Linked DNA regions of Homo sapiens: region 2 is linked to region 1. A link means that fine-mapping ties the variant in region 1 to the expression of a gene that starts in the linked region. Tissue or cell type: monocytes after Pam3CSK4. Region 1 holds a variant in brackets; the other region holds the start of a gene. All regions are shown on one strand. Distances are between the middles of the regions.

Region 1 (8,905 bases):
ATTTATGAGGAAGTGGAATACCTTTAAGACTTTCTTTGCTTAGCAGCTTGTTTCTTCAGATCTCCACTTAGGTCATAATATTTAGTTACTTCTTTAGAAGAAGACTCTAGAGAGAACTCCGTGTTGCCTCAAAGGAGTCTTTAAATAATCCATATTACTCTTTCTACTGAATAATCAGATAATTAAGCCTGACCTATATCTCCTGACCAGGCAGATTTTCTCTATTTAATATCTGTAACTGGTCTTGATTTCTGCCAGGGGCATTAACTAATATTGATGAACAGATAATTTGTTTTAAAAATAGGTTTAAAGAGTCTTTTCACCGTGCATAATTAATGAGGAAGTTATTTTTTGTTTGTGGGGTATTCCACAGTTTATCTCCTCAGAATACATCTCAACAACATTCTTAAATAACGAAGCACTTGCTTTTCAATTTCTGGAAAGGTAATAGCCATTTACTGCAAAGGTATCCCAGCTCATATACAGAGAGTGATGCGTCTACAGAAAGACAGCCTTCCCACTTCCCTTCTGGGGTTCTAATGTCTTCCTGGAATTTCCTCCCTGGAAATCTCTGTTTTCCCTGAAAGAGTTAACTTTCAGGAAGCATCCTGAAAGAAAACAATATGGTTCCTTTTGGAAGGGAACAGAGTTATTTATGACATGTTTAAAGTATGCAACCTCTAAAGTATTAATTGAAAAGTCAATAATCTAACGTACTACTATCACGTCACTTTCAAAGTAATAACTCGTCCATAATGTTTTAAAAACTCATATAACCATCAAAAGTATGTAATAAAACACAGTATTCCTCTGCTTTCTTCATCTTCTTGTTCTGCTCCTTAGAGGTAACTATTTTCAATTTTGTCATGTTCTAGCATTTACCCTCATATTTCTAAATATGCAACTTTGCTATTTATTCACCAATTTTAGAAATTATCCAAGTTATCTATTATCATGGTAGAGGAGGAGTTACACTCCCTTAGCTTCCCCAATCCATCCTTCCAATGCAGTTTTTTCATAAATTTTGGTAAATTCATTTTCAGTGTTTTTCATTGCTATGACTGTATATATATTTACATCTAAATCAAGAAGTGTGAATGAATAGTACACTCCAGGGAAATCAGGTGGCCAGCTGGCTTTTTCTTCATGTAGCCCCAAAGGTCAATGCGTTACTGGTCGAGGGTGTCCAGGTTCTTGGCATCTTCCACAAAGAATTGGACACAATGCACAAACAAAGCAAGAAAAGAATGAAGCAGCAAAACCAGAGATTTACTGAAAACGAAAGTACACTCCACAGAGATGGAGCGTCCCAAGCACAGGAGCTGAAGAGCCTAGTTACATAATTTTCTGGGTTTAAATATTCACTAGAGGTTTTCCATTGGCCACTTGGTGTATACCTCATGCAAATGAAGTAGTGGCCCACATCAGTCTGATTGGTTGCAGAAAGCAATCAATCAAAGGCTGAAGTGAAGTTAAACGGTTACACTCTATGCAAACATCTGATTGGTTGTGGAAAACAACCAATCACAGGCTAAAGTGAAGTTACAAAGTTATACTTCTATGCAAATGAAGACTTGGCTACCAATCAGTCTGATTGTGGAAAGCAACCAATCAGAAGTATTTTAAATTTTCCATCTGCCATGCAGGAAAGAGGGGGTGGTTTGCAAAGGGAGTAGCCTGTGGTCTCTTTGTTACTTAGATGTGGAAAGTCGGGGTTTTCCTTTTGATACAGTTCTAGGAAGTCAGTGGGAATTGGCCTTAGGTTCCCTACCTCCAGACCCTATTTTCTTGCGTCAAATGTCTCTAGAGAGACGCTGTATTTTTTCTGAGGTGGTTCATCTCCCCACATCCTGCTTGTGGTTGTATGATTGGTTATTGTTATTCTGAAATTCAGTAGGGGAACTTGAAAAAGGCTTTACAATTTCAAATGCAGATCACTGACTCTGTTTCAAATGGGTCATCTCATCTTCACTCTTCTCTATTCCTAGTTCAGTTTCAAAGTATCTCCTCCACTACTAGTACTGGGAAGACGTAGGACCTGACTCCTTACAGTGTGGATAGTAACCTGGGAATCTAACTGTTGCTTATACAGGCTTTCAAACAGTCCCTCGACTTTGCTTTTTACACACTGTGGCACCAAACCTTTATAGACTCCAATGGGGATGACACCAGGTTCAAGAGGCCAAAGAAGAGACCCAGAGCCAGCAAACAAGACATGGGGTTGTACTGGGGGCTAAACACAGGGGAGAGCCCAGTGGTGGTGGGCGGAACAGGAGAACCCCACGACCCAGGGGCAGTAGGCTGAGCAGAAGAATCACAACCACTTGCAAAAAGCATGCAGGTTTTACAGCATTTTCACTTAGCCCCTGCCTCCTAATAAGCTCCACCTGGAAACTTGCATTTAAACCAAAACAAATGGCCTCAATCCTCTGTACAGCTCACATTCCACAGGACAGGATGGGGCCTAGATGTTCCTTATAGATAAGGAATGAATCTCTGCGTTGTCCTCTCCCACATTCCTTAGCTTGGAACTCTGAACCGCATTCAGGTGCACCTGCTATACAGGGTCATTCTCAGGGTATGCGTAAATTATTGCTATCAGGTGCATTTAACACACATACACACAAACACAGAGACACACACACACACACACACATTGACACACACAACCCTACCTTCTGAGATACTTGGCACTTCCAATTCATGAGCATTTTCAGGATTCTGTGGGACGAATCAGCTAATTCCTATTAGTATCCTCATTTATGGGTACTCTTAAATTGTTAAGTCTACTGATTACATTTAAAATGTACTGGGTAGAGGGAGAGGTGGGAGAAATAGGAATTTATCTTCAAATAAGCAATAAAGCATCAATTGTGTTGGGTTCATTGCATATCTGTGATTATAAATAGACTTTTAATTTGTCTATAGAGTTCTGTCTATCCTCCATGAGCTTGGCGTGACAAGTCTGGTTTTGTTTTGTTTTGTTTACCTTGACAGATAAGAAAGGAATCTTGAAGCAGCACTTGCCTTGTGTCAGGGGATTTAACAGGACAGGTCTGGGCCCCTGAACTACAGGTGATGTTAAAGAACCATGACTTTAATCTTTAAAATATTCTACAATTGCAGGAACATGTGAGAGCAAGAGTTGAACTCTGTGTCTCAAAAGTAACAAAAGGTCTCACATTTCATCCCTGGCCAGAAGGAGTTAGAAATGCCTGTTCTGGGCACCTTGCATCCAGGCAGTAAGTTTGAACCATCAATCTGTACTGGATCTGTGTTTCTTCCCTTCATGGTGTGGTTGGGATTGGTGTAGCTGTCAGGTGGAACTGTTACACCAAAATGTCCAGGGCTTAATGGAATCCATCATTAATATGGTCTCAAAGATTTTTACATATTTATAGTTTTCTCCATTCCTACATGATGACAGAATGTGAAGGATGTATTCACTTTTTGTGTCACAGCTAAAGATAATTATCAAGCTAATATATTCCTTGCCTGTTTATTTTTTCTTTAAAGAAAGGGTCTCGATCTGCTGCCCAGGATGGAGTGCAGTAGTACAATCATAGCTCACTGCAGCCTCAAACTCCTGGCTCAAGAGATCCTGCCACCTCAGCCTCTCAAGTAGCTGGGACTATAGGCATGCATCACCACACCCAGCTAATTTTTTTAAATTTTTTGTAGAGATGGGGTCTTGCTATGTCGTTGCCTAAGCTGATCTTGAACTCCTGGCCTCAAGCAATCCTTCTACCTTGGTCTATTTATATAAATATTGGTATTATATCCAGAACAAAATAATGGGGTATAAAAATGATTAAGACTTGACCATTTGCTATTATCTGAAAATAATCTTAACACACTAAATAATAAATAACTATATCCCACTCCTTAAATCCTAAAAAGCAGGGGTAGGGGAATCTTAAGTGGTGACCCTTTTCTGGTAAAACACTAAAAACCATCTTAAAATACTAAGAAAAATCTGAAACAATAGTAGAAAAATAAAAAATTCTACATATAATTTAAAGAAAGTTCTGATATGGAGGTTAAAACTGGATGACAGAGCCATTGACCACACTGAGGTGGCAACATCTTCAGTCACAGCTCACAGCAGTCGTGGGCTTTCCACGAGTGGGACTCCCTGGAAAACTTACACACAATCTGATCACTAAAAGCAAAGATCCTCAGGTATACATCTCAAAGAGAAGAGCCTTACATTTTCTCCTGTGTGACCTAAAGCAATGACATGGGATTTTTGCACCTCAGTTGCCTTATCTGAAAAAAATGGGATGCCTGCCTCCTAGGATTGTTTGACAATTAAGAGTAAAACTCTTAGATGAGTGCACAGCACAGTTTAACTGTTACCAATTAGTATTATTACCTCACACCTAAGGAAAGAAGGAAATAGACAAATGGGAAAAAAAAGGTGGGGGTGGTTAGAATTAGCTAAAGGTGATGCCCTAATCAAACAGCCCAGGGTCTCTCCCTTCTGGTCCTAAATTGTATTTCAATTCAGGAAATTCCAGGATTGCATCAGCCGAATGAGGTAACTGGCTTGTCATCTGAACACTTTGCCAGCACGTGATGCTATTATGTGAGCC[C/T]GCTGTTCCAACGTGAGTCACACATGTGAGCTGCAGCCACTTCTGCAGATGGAATAAAGTGTGTCAAGGTACAAGAACTGTACTTTCTCCTTTTTTTCTCACCTTGAACCTGAAAATCATGTGGGATTAATTTCCTAAGTATTTGCTCTACAGTTAACTCCAAATTATCCATGCTAGTGGAGGGAAAGAAAGACACAGATGGACATGAACAGTGACTGCTTCAAAAATGCCTTATAACTTGTGACTTTTGTAGTTAGAATTCTATATTGAGAATTGGTACCTAAATGTTCTGGAAACAAAACTTGAAGCAAAGTAAGTCTTGCTCGCCAGGCACGGTGACTCATGCCTGTAATCCCAGCACTTTGGGATAATGAGGCAGGTGGATGGCCTGAGCCCAGGAGTTCGAGACCATACTGGGCAAAATGGTGAAACCCTATCTCTACCAAAGAGATTTTTTTAAAAATTAGCTAGGCGTGGTGGCACATGCCTGTGGTCCTGGCTATTCAGGAGGCTGAGGTGGGAGGATCACTTGAGCTTGGGAGGTCAGGACTGCAGTGAGCCATGATAGTGCCACTGCACTCCAGCCTGGCCAACAGACTGAGACTGTCTCAAAAAAAATTAAATTAAAAAAATTTAAAATTAAAGTAAGTCTTGCTAGAAGACTGACCCCAGACAAACCAGAAAATTCATCCCAGACTTCATTCCATAACCTAGTACAAAACCATGCTGTTTTTCTCTTCTGAGGCAAGAGGAGCCATAGCATCTGATGGGGGACATTATCAGCCTAACTTGCATGGTTGCATTCTCATGCACTTCATGGGGAGAAGGAAGATAGTTAATCATTCCTGACAGCTGAATATAATTGTGACTAGAGCCTCAGTCTCTTTATCATTCTGAAGGTGGTATGCAATAGAAAGAAATAACAAAGAAAATGATGATATCACCTGAGAGTTTAAGTTATTTTTTAAAATTCATGAATAGTATAGTTTATGCAATACGTAGAAATCAGCTCTTCAGTAGACTGACCCTGGGAAAACTGGTTGGAGTTTTTTTGTTTTGTTTTGTTTACAAGGGTGGAGACAGCAAGGAAGGAAGGGAGAGAGAAATATCAGACTTACAATCAATGATACACACACACACACACACACACACACACACACACACACCAGTTTTATTGAGTTGTAATTACTTTTTGAGACAGGGCTGGAGTGCAGTGGCATGATTACAGCTCACTGCAGCCTTGAACTCCTGTTCTTAAGCAATCCTCCTGCCTCAGCCTGCAAAGTGCTGGAATTATAGGCATGAGCCACCATGCCTGGAGAGCTGTAATATTTTTTAGTGAACTCTACTATGTGGTAAAACTCTAAATCATGATTTTCAGTAAAGCCCACTGAAGCCAGTTCACCTACGAGATACTTTCTACAAAGTTTAACTCTTCAAGTATGCACACACTTTTTTAATGTATGAATTTAGAAATGATTGCCTAAACATTTTGTTTCTAAAATACAAGATGATGCACATATTCCATTTCATTATTTCTTTCTGCAGAACATAAATTCATGGTGAACGGAACCATAATGAATTATTTAGCCAAGCCAGTATTTTTGACTTGAGCTAAGATGACTGATATGGTTTGGCTCTATGTCACCACCAAAATCTCATGATGAATTGTAATCCCCAGTGTTGGGGGAAGGTGGGAGGTGATTGGATCATGGAGGTGGATTTCCCCCTTACTGTTCTCATGACAGTCAGTGAGTTCTCACGAGATCTGGATGTTTAAAAGTGTGTAGCACTTCCACCTTAGCACTTTCTCTCTCTCTTCCACCATGTGAAGATGTGCCTGCTTCCGCCATGACTGTAAGTTTCCTGAGGCCTCCCTAGCCATGCTTCCTGTATAGCCTGTGGAATGGTGAGTCAAGTCACTCTCTTTTCTTCGTAAATTACCCAGCCTCAAGTAGTTCTTTTTAGCAGTGTGAGAACAAACTAATACAATGACCATATTATCTCTAAGTACACACTTTGCTGTTGTCAGCCACAGAAATAAAACCAGGTTTAGGATGGAAGTCCCTGTTGGCACTCAGAAGCCATCTGAAGGCCAGTTTTCATTTTTTCTCTGCATTTTCAGCCTGTACAGCCTTTTCATTTTTTCAAAAAAGAGAAATATATGATAATGGTTGAAAACAGACTGCAAATATGTAATTCACTCTTCAGAAATAACTGTGTGTAAACTTTTATATTTTAATGCACATGTATAATTTGTTAATAAATGTAATCTGATAAAATAAAAACTTCAGGCAAATTAAATTTAAAGGAGTTTGAGCAATAAATGATTCATGAATCAGGCAGTCCCCAGAATCACAGCAGATTCATAGAGTTTCCAGTACAGCCACGTGGTGGAAGATTTATAGATTAAAAAACAGGAAGTGATGTACAGAAATTGGAAGTGAGGTACAGAAACAGCTGGATTGGTTACAGCTCGACATTTGCCTTACGTGAACACAGTTTGAACACTCAGCAGTGTATGAGTGGTTGAAGTATGGCTGTTGGGATTGGCCAAGACTCAGCTCTTGTTACAGGCACATGCTCCTAAGTTAGGTTTTCAATCTTGTCTACCTATTAAGTTAGATTACAGTTTGTCCACAAGGACTCAAATATAGAAGTACAGAGTCCTTCTCAGGCCATTTTTAGCTCAATTTAACAAATCATAATCAACAAATTAAGTAACCTAATTTTTTCACTTGCAGTGTATCATGGGCATCTTTCTTGTTAGAGCTGATAGAAACATCTCGCATATTAAGGGTTGAGTGGTTCTCAAACTTGACTGCACATTAGAATTACCTGGGGCACTTTAAAACAGTGCAAATACTGGGCCTCATTCTCAAACAGATAATCAGAACCTCTGAGGGTGGATCCTGGAATTACGAGTTTTTTAAGTGTTTCTGGATTCACAAGTGCAGTCAGGGTTGAGAATCACTTATCAATCTGATTATTTTTTAATCTGCATAGTATTATGCATGTATCATATTAACCCTCTCCTACTGATGGACACTTAAGTGGTTTTGAATTTTTCTACTACATGCAGTGCTGCAATTAACATTATTTTATATACATCTTTGCTTATTTGGCCTTAGGATAAATTCCCAAATGTGGAATATGCATATTTAAAATATTAATACATGTTACCAGATTCTTTTCCAGAATGATATATCCCAAAGTACCAGCCAACCAACTTTCCTACCCTGGGAATTGATATTTTTCATTTTTGTCAGTTTGGTGGATTGAAAACAATCCTCTTTCATTTGAATTTCTTTGCTTATTAGTGAGGTTGAGAAACTTATGAGCCATTATTCTGTCTCCTAAATTAACTCTAAATAGAGTCAAGTACAGACTAAAGTGAAAGTTCTAACTGGATTATTTATTTAGCAGGTAGAAGTTGGGGAGAACAGTAGCTCCAAAGAATCATGAAATTATAGTGTTGAAAGAAAACTTAGAGATATCTAGTTTAATTCTGAGTAATGTCGTGACTTGATTATTTTCCCATCCAAAGGTGAATGTTACTAACACTAGAAAATTCAGATGAAACAATAGTGAGGTGAGGAAAAGATATGGCAAAGGGGGAGAAAACCTAAACTGGGTAGGAAAGAAGATGAGAGCAAAGGAGAGGCTGGTACACAGAAAATAGAGAGAAAAGGTGAGTACTATCCTGTGGGTGACTACTGGGTAGGTCCTGCCAAGAAAGCAGGTGAGCCAGGTCTGTGTAGACAAGGGCAAGGGCCACGGGGACAAAACCATGGATAGGAGAGCGGCTTCTCTAGATCAGGGCAGCTGGACACTGCTGCCAGCAACAAACCAGCTGGAAGCTGTTTCCAGACAGACAGACCCGTGTTGGTGTACTGAGGAGAAGCCATGCGAGCACATCCCCCAACACAGGCTGAGGGCTCAAGTTCTCAGATAGGGGAGGTACAAGACAGCAGCCAACAGTAATTTTTTAAAAATGAAATCCAACCAGTACTGCTAGGTGTAGGGTGATGATTTCTGGTAGGTGTATGTTTGGAGCCAGAGAGAGGAGTCGCCTCATAGATATATTAATCAGAACTGATTCTCAGGACAGTCTGGCATCTCCTCTTTTTAAAGACTATCATATCACCATGGTGAAATTCTGGACTTTGGTGGGTATTTGAAGCTGTCCATTTCAGTTTTATAACCTAGACATGGACTCCTCCCTCCTGAACTTTAATAATATAGATGCTCCTGTGCCCACTTTGAGTTGATGGTATACTGAGCCTAATCATCTTCTTACTCTTACTTGA
Region 2 (8,905 bases), 47 kb after region 1:
TACAGGGTCTTTAATCTGTCAGTCTGGAACAGTTCCTCCAACTTTCTTGACTTCTATGTCCTTGACACTTTTGAAGATTACAGGGCAGATATTTTGTAGTACGTTCCTTAAATTGGATTTGTTTTCTCATGATTAGATCCAAGTTATGGAGGAAAAGCAATGGGTTGCAAGATTTTGGTTTATCAAATGTTCACTTTGATCATTTGATTAAGGTGGTATATTTCAGCCTTTTAATCTATGTAACTAAGTACTTTCTGGAAATATATGTTGAACCCTGTAAAAATCTCATTTTTCATTGAACTTTGAATGTACTCATTTATTATAATTTATATCTGTAATGAACACATGGTACCAGAATTATTCATTGGATTATAATCTGTTGCTATCATAATTTATTTTAGTGCTCAAGTTAGGCCATCTTTGGCCAGTGGGAGCTTTTTTCAGGTTGGTTCCTGTGTCCTTTTATTCTGTCTCCATCATTACTTTCATTATTTTCTGGGATAACAAGATGTTTCAGGCTCAACTTTTATTTGCCTTGTCCTAGTCCTGGAATCAGCCATTTTTCCAAGGAGCCCTGGTTTCTTTTAGTAAAAAGTTAAAATATGGATGCAAGATATGCTCATTGCTTTTGGGGTGTCATTGTTCCCAGGCCCTCTTAGAATACAAATGTAGAAAATATTTGTGTGTGTGTGTGTGTGTGTGTGTGTGTGTGTGTGTATGCAGCAGAGGTTTACATCTACATTTATTTATATACTATATATATATGTTAAAAACTTTTGAGTTCATATCAACACCACCAATTTCATTATAACAACACAAGACTCATTCAAGTTTTCTCTTTCCATTCTTGTAACTTCTTCAACAGTGACTAATGTGGTTCTCATTATCATTCATATATTCACTTATTGGATCACTTGTCTCTACAAGTAACTAATTTCCCATTTCTGCCATCACCAGTCCACCAAGCAAACCCTTCCTTGAACACACCTGGGTCCCACTGCCTTGCACCTGGCCGTCTTTCTCACTACCTCCCACCCCTTGTGGGGTGAGGAGGGCATTTTAAAAGATGACCATGATACCTGAACTCTCTTCTTTACTCCTTCCTCTGCCTTGTAACCTGGAACATAGACGTAATGATTGAAGCTTGAGCCACTCTCTGGACTATGAGGATAAGGGTCACACCTACAAACATCAGAGCAGTGAGCTGTGAAGTGCCTGAATTTCTGACCCTTTGGCAGAGCAAACTAGCCATATTAACCCTGCCCTGCCCACTGTCTAGACTTTTACATGACAGCCATATAACATGAATCTTTAAATCTTATTAGTTTAGGTAACAGCCAAATGTAATTCTACTTGATAAAGATGTCCACAGCTAGAGGCCAGCGGGAACACAGATACATCTACTAATTCCAGGAGGGAGTGATGAGAACCTTTATCACCAAGATGAGGGAGCACAACAGCCTGTTAGAAGTCAGAATCCAGCTTAGCAAAAAGAGGGTCAGGCAAGACCAATGAATTGATTGGGACTATGTATTCTACTACTGGAGGCAGAAACTTAGTTCATTTCAGAAAATCAAATAAACATTTCTTGCACTACTGAGCTCTGGATCTGAGATGGGCTCTATGAAGAAAGTAGCTGAAACTATGGTAATGGCAATGGCAATGGATGAGGTCCAGGGAGTTTCCAGTGGAAGAAAAAATGAACCTTAAAAATCTCAAACATTAACTATTAGAAAGGAAGCAGCCAGGGGATATTAAGAGTAAGAGAGAATTAAAGGAGAACTTCTGAACAAGACTTTTTTATATCCCTTAGGGAATTAATTACCAACATTAAAGTGCATTTCGTATCATTACCTTTCATATTGTTACATTCCACATCCAATTTTGATCCCAGGGGGTGATATTTTAAAAACTAGAAACAATTTCTGCATCACAGTGAAATCTATAGGCAGAGTTAAAGAGGTTTACGTATACAGACTACTAGAAAGTCTAGACCAGGTTTACTGGTTTTCATTCATTTCTTGCTTCTTAATCAGTTTGGAGGCTCATGTAAAGGCAGATTTGAAGGGAGAAAAGACTCAAGAACAAGAGATAGAAGGGGTGATGCTATTGGAGGTTGCTAGAATTGCCTGGATTTTGGCTTGGGATGATCCCTAGCACAGGTATGAGGCACAGAATCAATTGTTATGCACCATGTCACATTCTTCACACGTGCCTCACATGGTTATACACACACTCAAACCAAATCAACATGAACCTAATTGAAGGCAGCCTAGGTAGACAAAACGCCTTCATGAGAGTTCTGCGCAGTTGAGTGATATGTAGAGGAGTTCTTCATTCTAAACAGCTTTCTCAGTGGTGGTTGGTTATTGGACCACCAGCTGATATCACCATCCCGATTTGAGCTTCCTTTAATTTCAGGTGCCCCTCCTAGCTGTTGACCGGGATACAATAATTACTCTAGTTCATCTTGTATTGGTAGCTGTTTAATTCTTCATGATTTCATATTCGGAAAGACAGAATAAGAAATCATGAGTCAAATCAGTGGTCTTTAGAAGTATCATCACTAATACCTATTGGATACATCAAATGGCCAATTTGCTTTACTTTATAATCCCTTGGGGATTTACTGATTTTTTTTTTTTTAATTACCAGTTTTAGGCTGTGTATACTTCTCATATATTCATTAAATTTTAGTAGCAGTAACGGAAGCTGTTTTTACACGTTTGTAATTGTGCCCTGAAATGACACTGAATTAACTTAAATTCAAATGACTTAACTAACTTAAAATTAAACATAAAAATGTGTATCATGAGAGATGAGGGAAATATTCGCAAAATAGAAGGGCACACAATATTTTCAGATTATTTTATTCTTAACCCACAAATCCCACAGATATGTGACAACTTAAAAAACAAATTAATGCTCTCATGGCTTTTTCGATTTAGGTAAGCCAACAATTCCTGACCATTCTGTAATTTTGTAGTCATGTTTGATTAAGTGCCATCTCTTTCCCCCTAATACGGATAAAATCTGAATTGTGTATTAACAGAATTTTGATACATATTATATGAATGAAATGGATCCTACCAATCATAAAGTACGACAATTGAGGTGGAGTCTTGTTCTGTCGCCCAGGCTGGAGTGCAACGGCGCAATCTTGGCTCACTGTAACCTCCTCCTCCCAAGCTCAAGCGATTCCCTTGCCTCAGCCACCCAAGCAGCTGGGACTCCAGGCGCCCGCCACCACGCCCAGCTAATTTTTGTGTTTTTAGTAGAGACAGGGTTTTACTATGTTGGCCAGGTTGGGCTCGAACTCCTGACCTAAGGTGATTCACCGCCTTAGGTTTCCCAAAGTGCTGGGATTACAGGCGTGAGCCACCGCGCCCGGCCAAGTACGAGAAAAATCTTACGTAACAAACCAGTAATATGGGCTATAGCCTTGTTCCCACGTAGCATCTTAAACTGTTAAAAATAAATCAGAGTTATTCTGAAATCATTGAGGAAAATAAAAATTAGATTTTGAGATTGCAGAATTCTGCAAATTTCTGCAAATGTATAAAAACAACATGATATAAATTGTGGCCTGGGTGTTCATAATTCTCCCCAGACTCTTTTATGGATGCCTTATTTGGTGGAGGTCTTCCTGTAATTATGGAATTATAAAGCCCATCAGACAGGAATATTAAAAAGCATGATTATTCCATAACCTTATTCCACAGGAGGAGTTATTCCACAGGAGGAGTTATTCTACAGGAGGTCCTAGTTCACTTTATTTTTCCCTCTTCGTCACTGCCTTCTGGTGGTGCTGCGGATCAACGCCCAGCTAAAGCAGGTTTAGAGGGTCAGCCTGGAGATTGGATTGTTACTGGTGGGATTTAAAGATGGACAGACCATAGGACAACAAATAGCTTAGGAACTGGCACTGTTTACAAATCCTAGGGAGAGAATTTCAGATCCCGAGTCCAAGACTGCTGCGATCCCTCCAGGCCTCCCCATTTGCTGCCACGCTCAGGCTTTCCCTGGCGGTCCCCAGGTCCAGCTTCTTATGGGAATGACACCCTTAACCGACAAGAAAGCGCTATGATTTTCCGTTTGGGATTTAAGCGGGGATTAAGCTCACGGATTCCCAGGCGTCTAGTCAGAGGCCGAACTCTGGGTCGGATCTCAGCGAGACTTGTTGCTGAGGAACACTGCAGCTTGGCTTCCCGGCGCTTCCCGGCGCTCCCTGGCTCCCCGGCGGGCCCGTCAACCACCCACCTCCCGGGAAGGGACCGAGGGCGCGCCCCGCCACGCGCGCTCCCCACGCCATGGTCCCCGCCGCGCGCGCTCATCCCACCCGAGCCCCGCCGCACGCCCTCCCCACTCCCCGAGCCCCGCCACGCGCGCCCCCGCCCAGCCCCAGGAGCGCGCGCCGCCGGCCTTTTCCCGCCGCGCTGCCGGGTGCCGCTAGTGCCCGCTCGCCGCGGGAGGCGCTGCTGTCGCTGAGGGAGCGCCTCCTCCTCTTCCTCCAACTCTTCCCCGCCTCCTCCCGCTTCTCCTCCTCCTCCTCCACAGTTGCCTGCCCTGGGCGGGGGCGAGCGCGTCCGGTTTGCTGGAAGCGTTCGGAAATGGCAACTTGCGCGGTGGAGGTGTTCGGGCTCCTGGAGGACGAGGTGCGGGGACCGCGGGGCTGCGGGGCGGGCTTCCCTTCGGGTTATTCAGCAGCCGGACCCGGGGAGGTAGCGGCGGCGGCCACGACCGGAGGCTCTGCTGTCAGCCCCTCCTCCCTCGGCGCGAGCCTGGGGAGCGCGCGAGGCGCCGCGGGGACTGTGGGGGCGGCTCGGCGCGCGGGCGCTGGGGGCTCGCTGGAGGGAGCAAGCTTGTCGGGTCCACACCCGCCCCTTCCCGGAGCGGCCGCCGCCTTACTTGTCAGTTTCCTTCAGGAAGTGTTGAGGAGGGGGCTAGGCGGTCGGCGGGGGACCCACATCACCGCGCCAGCCCCTTCCTGCCACCCCCGCCGGGTGTGCGGAGCTCCCAGGCGTTGGGAGACGGTCGCAGCATCCCCGCTGTTGATTTGCTTGCTCTGGCGGAGGCCGGGCCGACTTAACTTTACGGACTTCGGTCTGGAGAGTTCCAAGTGAATTGTCATTCGCTGGTTTGTTTTTTTCTTCTTTATCTGAAATCCTTTTTAATCCCCTAACTAGAGACAGGGATGGGAGAGCAGGAACATAAATTTTCCTCCTCCTCTTTAGCAACAAGTGTCTAGTGTGAGAAGTTCATGCTTTATTTCACCGGTCGTCGTTGATGTTAAAAAGTGAAGCCAAAAAAGTATAAATACTTTATAAAGAAGTTACCACATCTGTTCCCTTTGAAAACTAGATTAAGCTCTGGGATTTGAAGAAGGCAAAGCTGTTTCTTTTCAGCTAAATAACTAATGCTGATTATGCCTATGCTTATTAAAAATATTGTACGACCATTTGGAAAGGTTGTTCCGTCGTAAATGATATGTGGCTTCTGTGTGTTCTTGGAGATTGTCTCAAAAATGCAAATGGGTGGGAGATGAAAAGGCTGCATGTAGTCTAACAGTGACTGGTTCCGAGTGAAAAAAATCAAGTTTTTTGCTTTCTTGTTGGCTGACTAAGCTGCCACATGTACCTTTTATCAAGATGAGACCCAGTTAACTGAAAATCCATCAACCTAATTTATACTGCTTGCTTAAGTATTGTAATATTTAAGTTGTATAGTTCCTTCTCTTAGTACCTTGGTGTCGTCAAACATTTTACACTTCTCTTGAGAGTTCTTTGTTTATAAAGGGTGGGCAATTTGTTAATGCAGTTATTTCAGGATATTTTGAGAATGCTTACGTGATGCGATTAGAATTTAATTTCCTAGCTATTGCTGCCAGAAGAGAAATAAAGTGATGATGGACAAATGGTGGCGGCTCATAGTCCCTCAGAAACAATAGTCAATGTGTTACAGCTAAAGATATCATTCTAGCTAATGGCACCTTTATTCTGTAGACGAGATCAGAAGATAATACAGCACTTCACCTGTGGTCGCTTTCTTATCAGTCAGATTTCCCTGCTTGCTACGTAGACTGCCCAGTGCAGTTGACTTCAAGGTGGTGTCCAACCCAATCAGGCTGACCTTGGACTTTCTTTCCCTGCTATATTCACAGGTAGGCCCTGCTAATTGCAGATTTCTCATCTCACCGCCTTCCAGCAGAGCCAGTTGATCTTAAAGAAAATAGTGCCAAAGGTATCATTCACCATCTGTTTTCTCCCTCTTGGTACATGATCAGTGTTTTTAATTATCTACTTTAGTAATTTCTCTGTTTTCAATCATCACCCCTCTGCCCAGCTGAAATAAAACTAATTGTGGCAGTTAATGGGTGGTCGGTAAGGAACTGGGGCCAAAGGCCAGAAACTCCACCCTTTGAAATGTGGATTTCCTGAACTTGCTGAAGGATTTGTACTTCTAGGAAGTTTCATGGACTGTGGCCTATCCCATTCACATTCTGGGAGTTCTGGCTGTCAGTTCCATGACTCTAATTTGCTTCTGTCCCCGCTCTATTTTGTCCACATTGAGGAAGGGAGTGAGATAGGAAGATAAGAGACATGATGATGAAGAGTCTTCCACTTCTTCCATTGTAATTGGATTATTCATTCAACAGACATTCATTTACTGTTTGCTCTGTACCATGCATTGTGCTAGGCACCAGGGATAGAGAGGGAAAAAAGACAGTCTCAGCCTCGGACTGAGGGAAAGATAAAAGTCACTTTTTTTCTTGTGGAGGTTGCCCTCTCCACTATCATTTGCCATTTATTTTCTGGTCTATCACAAAAGTAAAAGAAGGATTGAAACCACACTCCCCCATCCTCCCCACCCCCAAACACCCCTTTTGTTAAAGGAAGAAAGCATTGCAGCTATGTCACTTCTAAAACTCACAGACTAGTCTGGAAATAGGCAGCCCTCTGCTGTTGATTAAAAGTAAAGTGCTTTTTCATTACAACAAAAGGAGAGGATTCTTATTTTAAATTTGAAACTAAAACAGGGAGAAAAATAATTTGAAATGGGATAGAAGATAGTGAAAGAATTGTAATTTAATCAGTATATAGTGAATAGTCGCTGAGTCAGTGTCTGAGCATATTAGCACTGAAGTATGCTAAAATGTAGATCATAATACCTTTCTCTCACTTTTCAGTGAGTTTTGGCTCTTCTTCCACATATAAGTGACTTATAGTAAGAGATCACCCTGGCTGCATGTGCAGGATTTTACCTTTAAAGTGTTAACAAACAAAGGAGGAAGTGTAGTATAATTTATACCAGATTTGCTCTGGTCACTTGAGATTCACAGTAGAGAATAACATGCACTGATCTTTATTGGAGAGCAGTGTGGTGGATGCGGGGACTGGAATTGAGCATCACTTCCCACCTCCTTCCCATGCACCTCCCTGTGATATGGAGGTGGGAAAACTAAACACTGTTTCCCACACTCCATTGAAATTAATGGACTGGATCCAAAGTAGGCTCCCCAGTTAAGTGCACTTACTTGAGATTTGCAGAGTGGAAATGAGGTGGAGCATATTGTTTTGTTTCTTTGGCTTTTTCTGCTGATAAGCACAGTCATGTAAACATCTAAATTTTCTGCGAAAGTATTCCAGTATCTGGTAACTTGCTTTGTACATATTGATAGGAAGTCACCGAAGTAGTGGTGGTAGTGGCTTCCAGACGTCAAGATTGATTATATTCTTGAAGTCATCAGTTCTGGTGATGACTCCTGATCATCTACCTTTCTGACTGGGAGAGGTAGTAGCTTCCTGGATGGGTCAGTTCTGCCATGTTTCTGATCTTCTAGAACTGCAGTCCCCAACTGTTTTGGCACCAGGGACCGGTTTCATGGAAGATAGTTTTTCCATGGACCGGGGATGCGGTCCAGTGGTTTCAGGATGATTCAAGCACATTACATGTATGGTGCACTCTACTTCTATTATGATTACATTGTGATATGTAATGAAGTAATTATACAGCTCACCGTAATGTAGAATTAGTGGGAGCCCTGAGCTTGTTTTCCTGCAACTAGATGGTCCCAAGTGTGGGTGACGGTAATGGGAGACAGGGAGACAGTGACAAATCATCAGGCATTAGATTCTTATAAGGGGTACACAACCTAGATCGCTTGCATGGACAGTTCACAATAGGGTTCATGCTCTTATGAGAATCTAATGCCGCTGCTGATCTGACAGGCAGCAGAGCTCCGGAGGTAATGTGATCGGTGAGGAGTGGCTGTAAATACAGATGAAGCTTTGCTCACTGGCCTGCCACTCACCTCCTGCTGTGTGGCTGGTTCCTAAGGTTGGGGACCCCTGCTCTAGAAGTCCAGCCTAGCACCTACTCTTCCAGCTCTTCCAAAAATTTTGTAAGCATCTAATCCCCTGTATTAGCTTCTTTCTTCTTAAAGCATCTAGAATGATTTCTGTTTCCTATAAGAAAGGCTGACTGAAGCAAGGAAAAGAAGGAAGGAAATAAAGAGGAAAGAGTTCAGAGTCTCCGCTATCGGTATGGAGAGTGCAGTTTGCACATACAGAATAATAGATGCCCCTGGTGGCAGCAGCCACAACAGTGCATAAGTAGCAGGGTAAGAAGGGCATATTCTGATACTTCTGGACCCACTAAGGCTGAGCAGAAACTGACCCTTACTCAGTCTGGGAACAAACTTCCCAAACCTTTATGTACTACACACAAAGGAGGAGAAGCATAGGTTAAGCAGCAGCTGTATTAGTAATTTCTCCCAATCTTTCATGTATTGTTTTTGCCATTAGTGCTTTTTTGCAACTCTTTAATTCCAGGATCATTGTAAAGTATTTTTCATGGAGCAGGGACTAAAGAAGTGAATAAATATAGTGTATTTTTAAAATAATTT

What was found. PIP is the estimated chance that this variant, and not a neighbour inherited with it, causes the effect.
Region 2: NEDD4 starts here. The variant in region 1 is fine-mapped to the expression of NEDD4 in monocytes after Pam3CSK4 (Quach 2016, PIP 0.95).

What each region holds. Positions count from the first base shown.
Region 1 is chr15:56,036,333-56,045,237 of GRCh38, reverse strand. No RefSeq gene overlaps it. Among named protein-coding and RNA genes, the nearest start is that of NEDD4, 47 kb to the right of the region's middle. RefSeq lists an enhancer at 3,873-5,072. The variant C/T (reference allele first, on the strand shown) is at 4,596.
Region 2 is chr15:55,989,261-55,998,165 of GRCh38, reverse strand. It overlaps NEDD4 (NEDD4 E3 ubiquitin protein ligase), which reads left to right and starts at 4,554. Exons shown (of 29, transcript NM_006154.4): 1 at 4,554-4,655. The coding sequence starts at 4,611. RefSeq lists silencers at 3,348-3,545, 4,332-4,431, 4,672-5,021 and an enhancer at 4,524-5,306.